Linked DNA regions of Homo sapiens. The protein of the gene in region 1 interacts with the protein of each later gene in a pairwise test. Each region holds a gene or a part of one and is shown in the gene's direction. Other genes may lie near its edges.

The links. Proteins that work in one complex are often made in the same cells at the same time.
Region 2: the proteins of EDC3 (region 1) and ANXA10 interact in binary tests that used the Homo sapiens proteins (3 or more experiments, as listed by UniProt).

Annotation. Positions count from the first base shown.
Region 1 is NC_000015.10:74,650,994-74,658,030, reverse strand, and holds part of EDC3 (enhancer of mRNA-decapping protein 3), read left to right. Parts: intron 1-1,962; coding exon 1,963-2,298; intron 2,299-7,037. UniProt on the Homo sapiens protein: Binds single-stranded RNA. Involved in the process of mRNA degradation and in the positive regulation of mRNA decapping. May play a role in spermiogenesis and oogenesis.
Region 2 is NC_000004.12:168,158,522-168,165,558, forward strand, and holds part of ANXA10 (annexin A10), read left to right. Parts: intron 1-1,712; coding exon of another isoform or gene 1,713-1,772; intron 1,773-4,006; coding exon 4,007-4,120; intron 4,121-5,676; coding exon 5,677-5,767; intron 5,768-6,725; coding exon 6,726-6,805; intron 6,806-7,037.

The DNA of each region.
Region 1 (7,037 bases):
ACTGATGTGTAGTAGCCAAATAAGGTGTCAGAGACAGGGTGTGGCTGGCTACTCTGTTGTGGATGTGCATTAGTGTGGCCTCTACAGGATCAGTTCAGTATGGACCCTGTCATTATTTGGTGTTTCAGAAACTGCTTACCCACAAGAGATAAAATTCTGAGAAAAGAGATCACGTTAACCGAAAGGTCTAAAGAAAGGTTTGTAAGTCAGAATAGCAATTTGTAGTGGTAGGTGTATACCTGGCTCAGAATGTAGAATTTTTTGAGCAAACCAGGGATTCCCTGCTGCTGGGATCTAGCCTAAGACCAAATTAAAAATCAGAAGATTGCTTGCTGGGTAAGCATAGATTTAAGGACTAGCTGAATAGTATTTTCCTACAAGCTTCAGGCTATAAGACCAGGCCTTCTTTTACTCTGGGGGTATTTCTCTCTTAAACAACTGCCAGACACTCAGACTCAAACTGAAGCAGGATATTTCCCTTCCCTGACCTATTCACAGGACTCATGACAGGGGTGCCCCGTTTACTCCACGCACTGCTCTCAACTCCTTGCAGAAGGGAGTGTGCGAGAGAACAAGGCAGGAACTGGAGTGCACAAGCACTGGAACCTGGCTGTCTGTTTCAGTGCCAGTGGGATCAAACTCCACTCACTCAGACCCACTGTGTTCTACCCATTGTGGGAGGGAGTGCACATGTGAGCCGGTGCAGGAGCCAGAATGAGCGCTTCTGGGCACCAGCAGGAGCGAACTCTGTGCAGGCCATATGGCAGCATCTAGGTGGGGTGTCTACAACTCCTGAAGCCCCAGAGGATGTGTTATGGTGCTCTTTTAGCTCTGCCATCCACAGATGGCTTAAGTGTTAACAGCTCAGTGGGCCTGCAGCTGCCCTCTGCCAGTGAGGGCAAAGGATCAGTGTGACAGTCTTTTGTATCTGCACTCATGGCTTCTGAGCTTTTGTCCAGTGTCCAGGAAAAATGAGGTCACATGAATGAATTAAAGGATGGTAAATGTGGGTGATTTTATTTTTATTTATGTGGGAAGGGGAGCTGAAAAGGGGACAGTCAGTGGTGGGTAGGTAATTTTCCCCTTAAGTCTGGCTGTCTCCAGCCAAATTCTTCTCCATAGTTACACAGTCAAGCTATCCCTCTGAAGTCAAGCCACTTCTCTCTGACATCCAGCCATAGTCTCCAACATCCAGCTGTTTCTCATCTCTGCTGACTGAGTCTGGGGTCTTTATAGGCACAGGATAGGGTGGGGGCAGAGCCATGGGTGGTTTAAGAAAAGACAACATTCTAGTGGGAAAACAGGGATATAAGTTCTCACTTTGGGCCACAGTCTCAGCCTTTTCAGCTTCAAAGGTGGGGCTTCGCCAGGGACCCGCCTCTAGAATTTCTCTGCCTCCTGCCTCTGTCATTATGTCAAAACCACCATGCTATATTCTTACTCTTCCTCTTGTTTGCTAATAGTAAGTTGTCAGAAAAACTTTTGTCATTACCAGTTTCCTTATGAAGGGGATAACTGGTTAAGATTTCCAGGAGTACTGCTTATTTCATATTCATTAACAAGTTACTTGGGTAATATTTGTTGTTGTTTGTGTGTGTGTGTGTGTGTGTGTGTGTGTGTGTGTTTTGAGACAGATTCTTGCTCTTTGCCCAGGCTGGGGTGCAGTGTCGTGATCATCACTCACTGCAGCCTTGAACTCCTAGGCACAAGCGATCCTCCTGCCTCAGCCTCCCAATGTGGGATTATAGGCGTGAGCCACTGTGCCCAGATTGGGTGATGTTTGAAACCTATTATTGCACATGAGATTTGTTGTTTGTGCTACTTAATATGAGTTTGCAATAGTTACCTTTACCATTTTCACATTGGTTCCTGTAACACTCTCCACAAAAGACTAATGTATTTTCCACGTTCACTGAGCGCTTTCTGTGGATACACTGACTTTAGTCCCTATTTTTTCTCCAGGGTCATCTAGTAGCAGGCACCCAAATCAGGCAACTCCCAAGAAAAGTGGTTTAAAGAATGGCCAGATGAAGAATAAAGATGACGAGTGCTTCGGGGATGATATTGAGGAGATCCCAGACACAGATTTTGATTTTGAAGGGAACCTGGCTCTTTTTGACAAGGCAGCTGTGTTTGAGGAGATTGATACCTATGAAAGGAGAAGTGGTACCCGTTCCCGGGGCATCCCAAATGAAAGGCCCACTCGGTACCGCCATGATGAGAACATCTTGGAGTCCGAGCCCATTGTCTATCGACGGATCATAGTGCCCCACAACGTGAGCAAGGAGTTCTGCACGGGTGAGTTGCATCAGGTCCCACATCCTGCTGGTTGCTGTTGCCTTTCTATTATGCTTGAAACAGAAAGACCTGGCTTCTGAGTCAGAATCTCACACTAGGAATTAATTTAAGTGGCTTGGTGGCTGGCCCGGTATTATTGTCTCTTGGGGATTGCAGCCAATAACAGCATTCTGCCATGGTGGAGGGGTAATTTCTGTAGATGTCTGTGTATATCCTGTATCTGGTAGGATATGGCCTGCCACTTATTTAGTATGCTGTGAGTAACAACTAAAGGCAAAGGGCCTGCTATGTAGATTCAAATATTCAGATCTATTTTCACTTTGGCTTCTCTATTACTGCCCATACATTTCACCAGACTTCAACTCTGTTTTACTAATTATTTGTTGTTGCAAAAAAACAGTTGAAGATGGATGATTGGAATCATTGGCTAAAAATAGAGTTTTAATAAATTACATTTCTTTACTATGCTGTTCTTATCTCCTGTTAGCCCAGGACATTGAAAGTTGGCTAATTTCATGTAACAGTGTAGTGCCTTATGTAGGTCATTGTAGATGATAATCTAGTTCTATTACCTCAGTGATTATTGTTTCTTTTTTTAGCATTAGAACCTTTTCTTCAAACCTATGGCATATAAAACAGATTAAAGCAGTGTGAGAGAGGTAATTCATCACATCCGTGTCCCATCCCTTCCCCTCAAACCACATTACTAACTGGGCCTCTTGGAATATGGTTTGAAAACCATTGTTATTGAATGATCCTAAGAGCTAAAGGGGAAGTCATAATCATTTTAGTAAGTAGAGAAGGAATTGAGTATAATATTTTTATTTTGGTTTGAAGTTTGGAATATAAGGAATATAAATCTTGAATGCTGGTAGCTGCTATAAGGAGAACTGTGGACGCAGCTAATTGCATTTGGAGGAAAGCCAGACATGGCTTTTTTTTTATAGATAATAGTAGGACTCTGTTGTATTTGGTTTCGCTGAGTATAGTAGCTTGCATGTGCTTTCCATGTGAAAAAAAAAAATAGGCCAACTGTCAGGCTAAGAAAGACTGCTAAAAAAAAAACAAGCTGCTGAACTGTGTCAGTCTTTTGCTGGCAGATTCTGGTAGGCATGCCTGTTTATTAAGGTGGTTTCCTTAAGTGGCAGTGACAGTGACACTGTAACTTGCCGAAGTCCTTCGATTTTTAACACCTGTGTAAAGGCAAACAGCCTAGCTCAGAATCGGGTTTAATTTAAATTGCTAGGTTTTAAGCCTTTCAAAGGCAGTTATCATCTGTTAAGTCTGGTACTCCTCCAGATCAGCCAACTATCTACCTCTGACTGCTTCCTTTTTTACTGCCCTCTTTGTAAAAGAAGCTGCTCCTGCTGCTAGCTCTCTATATCTGTAGTCCAAGTGCTGCTGCTGAGGCTGTTGGTTTATGCAGCGTGTGATTTCCCTGGAACTATTTACACTGCAGGATTTTTTTTTTTTTTTTTTGAGACGAAGTCTCACTCTGTTGCCCAAGCTGGAGTGCAATGGCGCAATCTCTGCTCACTGCCAACCTCCACCTCCTGGGTTCAAGCGATTCTCCTGCCTCAGCCTCCTGAGTAGCTGGGACTACAGGTACACACCACCATGCCTGGCTAATTTTTTTGTATTTTTAGTAGAGATGGGGTTTCACTATGTTGGCCAGGCTGGTCTTGAACTCCTGACCTCGTGATCCACCTGCTTTGGCCTCCCAAAGCGCTGGGATTACAGGTGTGAGCCACCGCGCCCAGCCCTACACTGCAGGATTTTTTTAACTTGGGAAGATTATGATCTGCCCTGGAGTCAAGTGGCTAAGAGTGAGAATAACAGTGAGAATCAGGGAGAATTCTCAGAACTAACAGAGCATGAGAAAATATTTACTAACATGGACAAAAGCAGAGGTAGAAATTTTTTTCTGCTACACACTCTGGCTCCCCAACTTGATCTTCACACTTCTTTTGTTTTTAATGACTGAAGTGAAAAGTTCTGTCATATAAAATTATTTTCCTATCAATAAACATACCACAAACCACATGTGCTGGTCCTTAGCCAGAAACTTGGGTGTGGCGTCTTGTGGTATGTAGTGACCAGTTGCACTCCACTGGTTCATGACAATGAGGGGGAAAGAAGCCCAGCAGCTTCATGCCATCTGGTTTTTCTCTTTGTTCTTAACAGTGACAAGGAGTGGAAAGGAAGCCCTTTTGCCAAGCAGCGTCTGTGCTGGAAATAGAGCAAGCAGGCAGTTATCTTACTGAGCAACTTCTTCTACAGGGGGGTTTTCTCTGTGTTCGAGTTCCAAGGCACAATCCTCAAGCAGGTTTTCACTGAGGGGCAGTCAGTGCAGAGCTGGGGACACTTTCTCCATTGGATCTGCTATCCAAATGTTTGGATCAAAAAAGGCAAACTAGAATATATAGGGAAACAGTCTAAAAGCATAAAATGTTAGTGTTAGGTTAGTTGATCACCTAGTATGATTTTTTCATTTTACAGATGAGGACATGAGGCCCAGAGAGGTAAAGGTTTTTTTTTTTTTTTTGGAGACAGAGTCTTGTTTTGTCATCCAGGCTGCAGTGCAGTGGCGTGATCTCAGCTCTCAGCGCACCGCAACCTCTACCTCCCAGGTTCAAGCGATTCTCCTGCCTCAGCCTCCTGAGTAGCTGGGATTACAGGCACCTGCCACCATGCCTGGCTAATTTTTGTATGTTTAGTAGAGACGAGGTTTCACCGTGTTGGCCAGGCTGGTCTCAAACTCCTGGCCTCAAGTGATCTGCCTGCCTTGGCCTCCCAAAGTGCTGGGATTACAGGCGTCAGCCACCACGCCCAGCTGGTAAAGGGTTTTCCATTGGCCAGGTGCAGTGACTCATGCCTGTAATCCCAGCACTTCGGGAGGCCAAGGTGGGAGGATTGCTTGAACTCAGGAGTTCAAGACCAGCCTGGGCAACAAAGTGAGACCCTGTCTCTACAAACAATAGAAAACATTAGCTGGGCACGGTGGCATGTGCCTGTAGTCCCAGCTACTCAGGAGGCTGAAGTAGGAGCGTCTGAGCCCATGAGGTTGCGGCTGCAATGAGCCAAAGTCATGCCACTGTACTCCAGCCTGGGTGACAGAGTCAGACCCTGTCTCAAAAAAAAAACACAAAAACCTTACCCATCACATCTCCTTTTCTCTTCTAAATGTGAATAAAAATGAGGAAAAGGCCAGGCGCAGTGGCTCATGCCTGTAATCCCAGCACTTTGGGGGGCTGAGGCGTGTGGATCACGAGGTCAGGAGATGGAGACCATCCTGGCTAACACGGTGAAACCCCGTCTCTACTAAAAATACAAAAAAATGAGCCGGGCATGGTGGTGGGCGCCTGTAGTCCCAGCTACTTGGGAGGCTGAGGCGGGAGAATGGCGTGAACCTGGGAGGCGGAGCTTGCAGTGAGCGGAGATCGCAGCACTGCACTCCAGCCTGGGTGACAGAGCGAGACTCTGTCTCAAAAAAAAAAAAAAGGAAAAATATAAGAAGAGAAGGGCAGTTTAATGGCAAATAGACTACAGATGATCCTCCAACTTACAATGGTTAGACTTATCATTTTTTGATTCTAGGATGATGTGAAAGCAATAGTCAGTAGAAACTGTAGTTGAAATTATTAATTTAGATCTTTTCCTGAGCTAGCGATATGCAGGTATGATATTCTCTAATGCTGGGCAGCAGCAGGAGTCAAAGCAGTCAGCCGTGCAGTCATGAGAGTAAACAACCAGTATTCTACAGTGTACTGTTTTGCCAGATGATTTTGCCCAACTGTAGGCTAGTGTAAGTGTTCTGAGCAGGTTTAAGGTAGGCTAGGCTGAACTATGATGTTTGTTTGGTAGGTTAGGTGTATTAAATGCATTTTCAACTTAGATATTTTCAATTTATGATGGGTTTATTGGGATAACACTCATTGTAAGTTGAGGGACATCTCTGTAGTCTTTTCTTTAGTACTGCAGTCTCTCAGGAATGGACCAGCAGTTTACAGAAGTAACTTGGAGAGCTCCCGCAGTCTGGCCTTGTGGCATTCATGTCCTAGAATACCAAGTACTTTTGTACTAATCCCCATGGTAGCAAAAGAACAACATATTTATTACCCATTTGGTGATGGCTTGGGATTTAGGATTCTGACAGCTTGCTGCTGGTGCCCTATATATTGACTTCATGCTAAGTGGTGTCAACCAACAGTACATAAGCTATTATTCACTAATTGCTCATACTCCTCTTGGCAGTACTCTTTGCCAGCTGTGTGTGTTGTGATGGGGAACAGTGTTGTTTTAGGTCTATTGATTGGGAAAACACATTCAGGAAGCAACTAAATTTAGCTCTTTGTTTAACCCCAATTTTTTCTCTCTGGAAATTCCTTTCAGGTTCTTTGGCAGGGCTTCTGTCTCCCGCAGTCACGGATCATCAGACATTTCTCTAGCTTGGGCCTGCCCTGCTAAATAATGGTGTCCAGTGATCACACTCTGGATTGGCCAGGGTCTTTCTGGATCCAGACTTGTAATTTGAAATTCTTTGAAGACTGATTCTACGTGCATGTGTTAAGTTTAAATATAAAACACTAGATGTGTGTGAGCACTCTGTGTTCAGTGGTGAGAACTCCCCAAAGAATACTGCTTAGTAAAGTGGTAAGGCTTCAGAGAAGAATCTTTATTCAACACTCATAAGATTCTTTTTTTAATTTTTTTTTAAATTTTATTATTATTTTTTGAGA
Region 2 (7,037 bases), on another chromosome or scaffold:
GTACTTTCTTCTAGAAGATTTAGTTTTGGCTTTTCTTTTTAAGTATATAGCTCTAGTACAAATTGAAATAGAATATATCAGTAAGAGCAGACATCCTTGCCTTGTTCTCAATCTTAGAGGATAAGCATTTAGTTTTTCACTGGTATCCTCTTCCCTGTAGAAATTTTGTAAATGCCCTCTATCAGTTTGAGAAAGATTCCTTCTTTCTTTGCTAAGAATTTTTTTATTATGATTATGTGCTAAATATTCTCAAATGCTTTTGCTACATTAGTTGGTTTAGATATGTGTCCTCTCCAAATGTCATGTTGAAATGTGATCTCCAGTGCTGGAGGTGGGCCTGAAGATAGGTGTTTGGGTCGTGGGAGCGGATTCCTCATGAAGAGCTCTTTCCATGAGTAATATGTTCCCCTTAAAGAGCCTGGCAGCTCCTCCCTCCAGCTCTTGCTCCCCCTTTGCCTTCTGCCATGATTGTAAGCTTCTTGAAGCCTCATGAGAAGCAGATACTGGTGCCATGCTTCTTGTACAGCTTGCAGAACCATGAGACAATTAAACCTCTTTGTAAATTACCCAGCCACAGGTTTTTCTTTATGGCAACACAAAGTGGACTAACACGCTACTTCTATTGATATCATCATATAGCTTTCCTCCTTATACTGCTAAAATGGAAATTTACATTGATTAATTTTCAAATGCAAACCAACCTTGCATTCCTGGGATAAACCCTACTTGCTCGTTAGGTGTCATTCTTTTTCTGTGTTACTAGATGTGCTTTATAAATATTTGAATACACATGTTTGTGTCTAGGTTTATAAGGGATATCAGTGTGCAATTTTCTTATGAAGTTTTTATTTTAATTTTTGTATTACAGCAATACTGGCCAGATAAGGTAAATTGAGAAATCTTCTATCATCCACTAATTTCTTCAATATTTTGTATAGGATTTACTTTACCCCTTCCATAAGGGCTTGATAGATTACATTAGTGATTCCACCTGGGTCTAGAGATAGGCGGGAGCATTAACTACAAATTCAATTTCTTTAATTAACATTGGGAAATCTAAATTTTCTATTTATGCTTGAGCCTATTTTGGTAATTTGTATTTGTCATGGAATTTGTCCATTTCAACTAAATTTTAAAATATAGTGGCAGAAATTTGTTTATAATAGTCTCTTTTTACCCCTTAGTGTCTACAGTATACATACACATAACTCTTACACTTCCAATATTGGTATTTTGTATTTTCTCTCTTGTTATAATGCTTTTATCTACTAAAAAAGAAAATCCACAGTGTATGAAAGGTGGTGTTGGATTATGCCAAATAATAAAATGAAAATTAGGACTATTTTGTAGTTATTTCAATGTGGAATCTTTTACTTGAATTCCAGTATTGAACCACCTCAGAACCAAAGTATTGCATGTTTTTAAGTAAAACTGAATATGCTTTACACAGTTTAGTGAGAGACCATTTTAAACACCGTTCAGATTTCTTGGTAACCCTACAGAAAATAAATTGAGTATATATATATTTTTTCCCTCAAATGTTATTTTAAGTTCAGGGATACGTGTGCAGAATATGCAGGTTTATTTCACAGGTAAACATGTGCCATGGTGGTTTGTTGCACCTATCAACCTATAACCTAGATATTAAGCCCATTATCCATTAGCTATTCTTCCTGATGTTCTCCCTCCCTGCTTGCCCCCGCCCCCAACAGGCCCAGTGTGTGTTGTTCTCCTCCATGTGTCCATGTGTTCTCATCATTCAGCTCCTACTTGTAAGTGAAACATACAGTGTTTGATTTTCTGTTCTTGTGTTACTTTGCAGAGGATAATGGCTTCCAACTATCCATGTCCCTGAAAAGGACATAATCTCATCCCTTTTTAATAGCTGCATAGTATTCCATGGCATATATGTACCACATTTTCTTTATCCAGTCTATCATTGGGCATTTAGGCTGATTATGTATCTTTGCTATTGTGAATAGTGCTGCGATGAACATACACATGCATGTATCTTTATAATATTAATATAATGGTTTTTATTCCTTTGGGCATATAGCCAGTAATGAGATTGCTGGGTCAAATAGTATTTCTGCCTCTAGGTCTTTGAGGAATCACCACACTGTCTTCCACAACGGTTGAACTGATTTACACTCCCAGAGTGTAAAAATGTTCCTTTTTGTCCACAACCTCACCAACATCTGTGGTTTCTTGACTTTTTAGTAATCACCCTTCTGACTGGGGTGAAACAATATCTCACTGTGGTTTTGATTTGTATTTCTCTAATAATCAGTGATGTTAAGCTTCTTTCCATGTGTTTGTTGGCTGCACGTCTGTCTTCTTTTGAGAAGTGTCTGTTCATATTTTTCCCACTTTTTAATGGGGTTGTTTGTTTCCTGTAAATTTGCTTAAGTTCTTCTTAGACTCACTCTGGTTATTAGACCTTTGTCCCATGGATAGATTGCAAAAACTTTCTCCCATTCTATAGGCTGTCTGTTCACTCTGATGATAGTTTCTTTTGCTGTGCAGAGGCTCTTTAGTTTAATTAGATTCCATTTGTCAATTTTTGCTTTTGTTGCAGTTGCTTTTGGAGTTTTCATCATGAAATATTTGCCTGTGCCTATGTCCTCAATGGTATTGCCTAGATTTTCTTCTAGGTTTTTTATAGTTTTGGGTTTTACATTTAAGTCTTTAATTCATCTTGAGTTAATTTTTGTATATGGCATAAGGAAGGTATACAGTTTCAGTTTTCTGCATATAACTAGACACTTCTCCCAGCACCATTTATTAAATAGAGAATCTTTTCCCCATTGCTTATTTTTGTCAGGTTTGTCAAAGATCAGATGGTTGTAGCTATGTGGTCTTATTTCTGAGTTTTCTATTCTGTTCCATTGGTCTGTGTGTCTGTTCTTGTACCAGTACCATGCTGTTTTGATTACTGTAGCCTTGTATTATAGTTTGCAGTTGGGTAGTGTGATGCGTCCAGCTTTGTTCTTTTTGCTTAGGATTGACTTGGCTATTCAGGCTCTTTTTTTGGTTCCATATGAATTTTAAAATAGTTTTTTTTCTAATTCTGTGAAGAACATTAATGGGAGTTTAATGGGGATAGCATTGAATCTATAAATTACTTTGAACAATATGGCCATTTTCATGATATTGATTCTTCCTATCCATGAACATGGAATGTTCTTCCATGTGTTTGTGTCATCTCTGATTTCTTTGAGCAGTGGTTTGTAGCTCTCCTTGAAGAGGTCCTTCAATTCCCTTGTTAGCTGTATCCCTAGGTATTTTATTCCTTTTGTAGCAATTGTGAATTGGAAGTCATTCATGATTTGGCTCTTGGCTTGCCTGTTTGTTGTTGTATAGGAAGAGCATATATATATTTTTAATTCCACTTTACATTTGTAAAATAAAATGCAAAATATTTTTATGTCTGTTTTCATAGCACATTTAGTATGCATGTATTTCTCTTTAAGTGTTTGACTTTCAATATTTAAAATAATATTGCTTGTTATTTGAAGAAAGTTCTAAGACTACTTAATTAATTTACATAAGCTGTTTGGCAATAGTATAACCAGGGACTTCTGCTAAAAGAGACTGTTGCAATGATAAAATAAAATAAAGTGCATATTTTCTTTAAGGAGTAATGTTTCAGTAATTCCACAAGAAAACTAAAGACCCCCAATTAAATGTTTTTAAGTTTAACTTTTACATATTTTCATAATGAGATCAAAAGAGGAGTTGGAGTTTAGGGTCAGAAAAAGAAAATCATTCTATGTTCAAATGTCTACAATGTGCATATGCTATGTCATGCAGGGGTGAGATCAAATCAACAATTTTCAAGTTCATCATCTCATGTAATGCATACATATACATGTGAATCAGACTTGTTATGCTGTTATTATTAAATGACATGGAAAAGAAAATATTAAAAGACTTTCTGCAATTATCTCATTTCTCTTGCAAATTTGGTAACATATAATAAATATATGTACTTTTTCCTCCACAGGACCTGATTGGGGATATGAGGGAGCAGCTTTCGGATCACTTCAAAGATGTGATGGCTGGCCTCATGTACCCACCACCACTGTATGATGCTCATGAGCTCTGGCATGCCATGAAGGTAGTGATCTGATCCAAAAATATGCCTGTAACAAGTACAGGCCAGTATTTCAGTAGAGGGGAAACTGCCCTGTGATGCTCCTACATACTTATATGATCAAGGAGAGGGGAGGGAATATCTAAACAATGATGTAACAATGGAAATGTTGTGGTCAAGGGCAGTGGCCTTGTTAGGAAGGTGGAGCCTCCTGGGCTGAGTGGCTGGGATCAGCCTGTTCTTTTGTTGTACAAAGTCACAAACTTACTGAGCCAGCCCCAGTGCTGACCTACAACAAGGAAAAGTGAACAAGCCTCCAGGGCTATTCAGATTTGTCCCTGAGCATGTATTCCTATATTGAGGATAATGTATTAAAAATGATGTGAATCTTGTTACATTATTTGTAAAAATTTGATTAAGTCAAAAGAAGATATTGAATCAGGGACAATATATAGATGATGTCTTTATATTTTCTTTTTATGACCTGAAGTTCATTCTTTACAGAAACATTTTTTTTTTTGCTCAAATGTATAAAAATCTTAATTTGGAAGAATTAGAATCAGTGTTTCTTACAGGAAAGTCATTTCCATGAAATAAGTTGACTGTGGATTTGTTACAGATTTTGTTGGCTAGGTACAGGGAACAAAGAGGGCCTTGGCTTTACTTCTTTCCAAATGCAGATATTAAACACCTGCAGAACTGTTGAAATCATTCCAGTACGATGCTTGCCAATGACCAGATTACCACAATCTGTGAACAATGTGTGACAGAAAAGAGGCAACAGGAAAAAAATTAAAGGACATGGATTTTGGCCATCACATTTACTGATCCAAATAGGCATTGTACAAAAATTATATGAATTTTAACTAATCGCTTTTAACACATGTTACATGTCAATTCCTACCTCTTGCAAAATTATGTCTAAAAATTATTTAAAAAATAAAGTTATATGTTTATATGTTGCTGTTTTGATTAAACAAGTGTGTTTTATCAATAATTCATAGAATGCTAAGGATTTCTGAGGCTTTCCTAAAAAAGGTGTATTGTCTTTAAGATCTCTTTCACAGACCAATATATCCATGTGTCTGCAAGAGACCACAGAAAGCATCCATCCAAATATTTATGCAAATTGTACAAAATTCCACATCTAGAGAGGCAGGCACAGGTCCCTAAAATATTCTCGGCAAATTAGAAAACCTGTATTCTAATGTCAGCTTGCTAAAGAATTAATATTCCAGCAGCAAATGGAATATCAAATATCATTCCAACAGCAAATGGAAATGCTCAATGCCATGAGCATTGCTTGAACATGTCTTTCTCCACATTGTTTAGAAATGCTCATACTGTTTTATTCTAAATGAAGAAACAGTTTCCTTCAGATAATATTAATTCTTCAGGGTCAAATAGGTAGTAAATGGCAAAGCTGAAACTAAGATTGTGCCTGCCTTCATCCTAAACCACTTCCTTTCCCTGCCACCTCTCAAAACACTGGAAATGCTGTATCCCTTTCTTGTACAAAAGGTACACTATTACTTCCAATAAAAATATCCTTACATTTATCTCTTTTTTCCTTTCTCTAGGGAGTAGGCACTGATGAGAATTGCCTCATTGAAATACTAGCTTCAAGAACAAATGGAGAAATTTTCCAGATGCGAGAAGCCTACTGCTTGCGTAAGGAAATATACATATGTGAATATATTTTACACATATAAGAACTTTATAACACATTAAATATTCCAGTTTATGTATTTTGAAGAATTATCTAAGACATTCTTACATTTAACATAGGATTCACTGAGGACCAATTAACTCATTAGGTAAAACCGATTATTAGTGCACTAAAAATGAAACCATTCTCTAGACAATCAAGTTAAGCAAATTTTCCAGGAAAATAATTACAAGTCTCTATGAGGTGAATGTTTTCATTAAGACAGGAAAGTGTCCCACATTTTAATTCAGGGGGCATTTCACCTCTTACCCAGGAAAGACCCAGCATATAGAAAAAATAAGGTACAATAATGGCTCAGTGAATTCTACAAATATATCTGCTTCGCTTTACATAAATTTCACATTCCCGTAATCTACTACAAAATCAGATTTTTATACATTTCAAAAGTAGAAAGGGTAACTATTTTCACTTTCAAAAAGGTATAATGCCTTAAGTTCTATTGCGTTATGTAGTATATGACATTGTGTGTCAAGAAAATGTTGCGGACAGTCATCTCTATTGCATTCAAACAAAAACAAGACTTTTCTGAAGGGAATGAAGTCAGAACTTTCACTAAAATGTTAAAATGAGATGAAGCACTTAGAAAAAGTATTGGGCTGGGCAGCATTCTGTGGAAATAGAATGCATAATTCTGAATTTTGAGAATCAGAGAATGTGAAATGACTCTCAATCCTGTTTTTCAATTTTGGACTAAAGATTTTTAAAAAATAGTCCTGTGCTTATGTTACCATTAGGTGACAGAATTCTTTGGCAGACGGTTTATTGACAAAGAAATGTCAACAGGTGGACTACATTTCCTGGACTTTGTACTCACAACTGGGAAATAACATTAACTTACTCAAAACACACTGATACATAGTTCTATAATAAATCATACCTTTAACATGTTTTCTTATACAGAATACAGCAATAACCTCCAAGAGGACATTTATTCAGAGACCTCAGGACACTTCAGAGATACTCTCATGAACTTGGTCCAGGTATGGCATTCCAAAATTTACATTACTTTGCACTATCTAAGCAAATAAGTATATGTCATTGCCAAAAAAAAAAAAAAAAATAGAACAGAAAACTCCAGTATATTACAGTTCAATAGTAAATTCTGTGTAGTAACATTTACTGAAGCCATGTTCAAAATACTCAACTAGAAATTTAAGTTGTTAAAGACAAATATGGATAATGCCTCAACTCTATTTTCAAAAAATTAAAAAT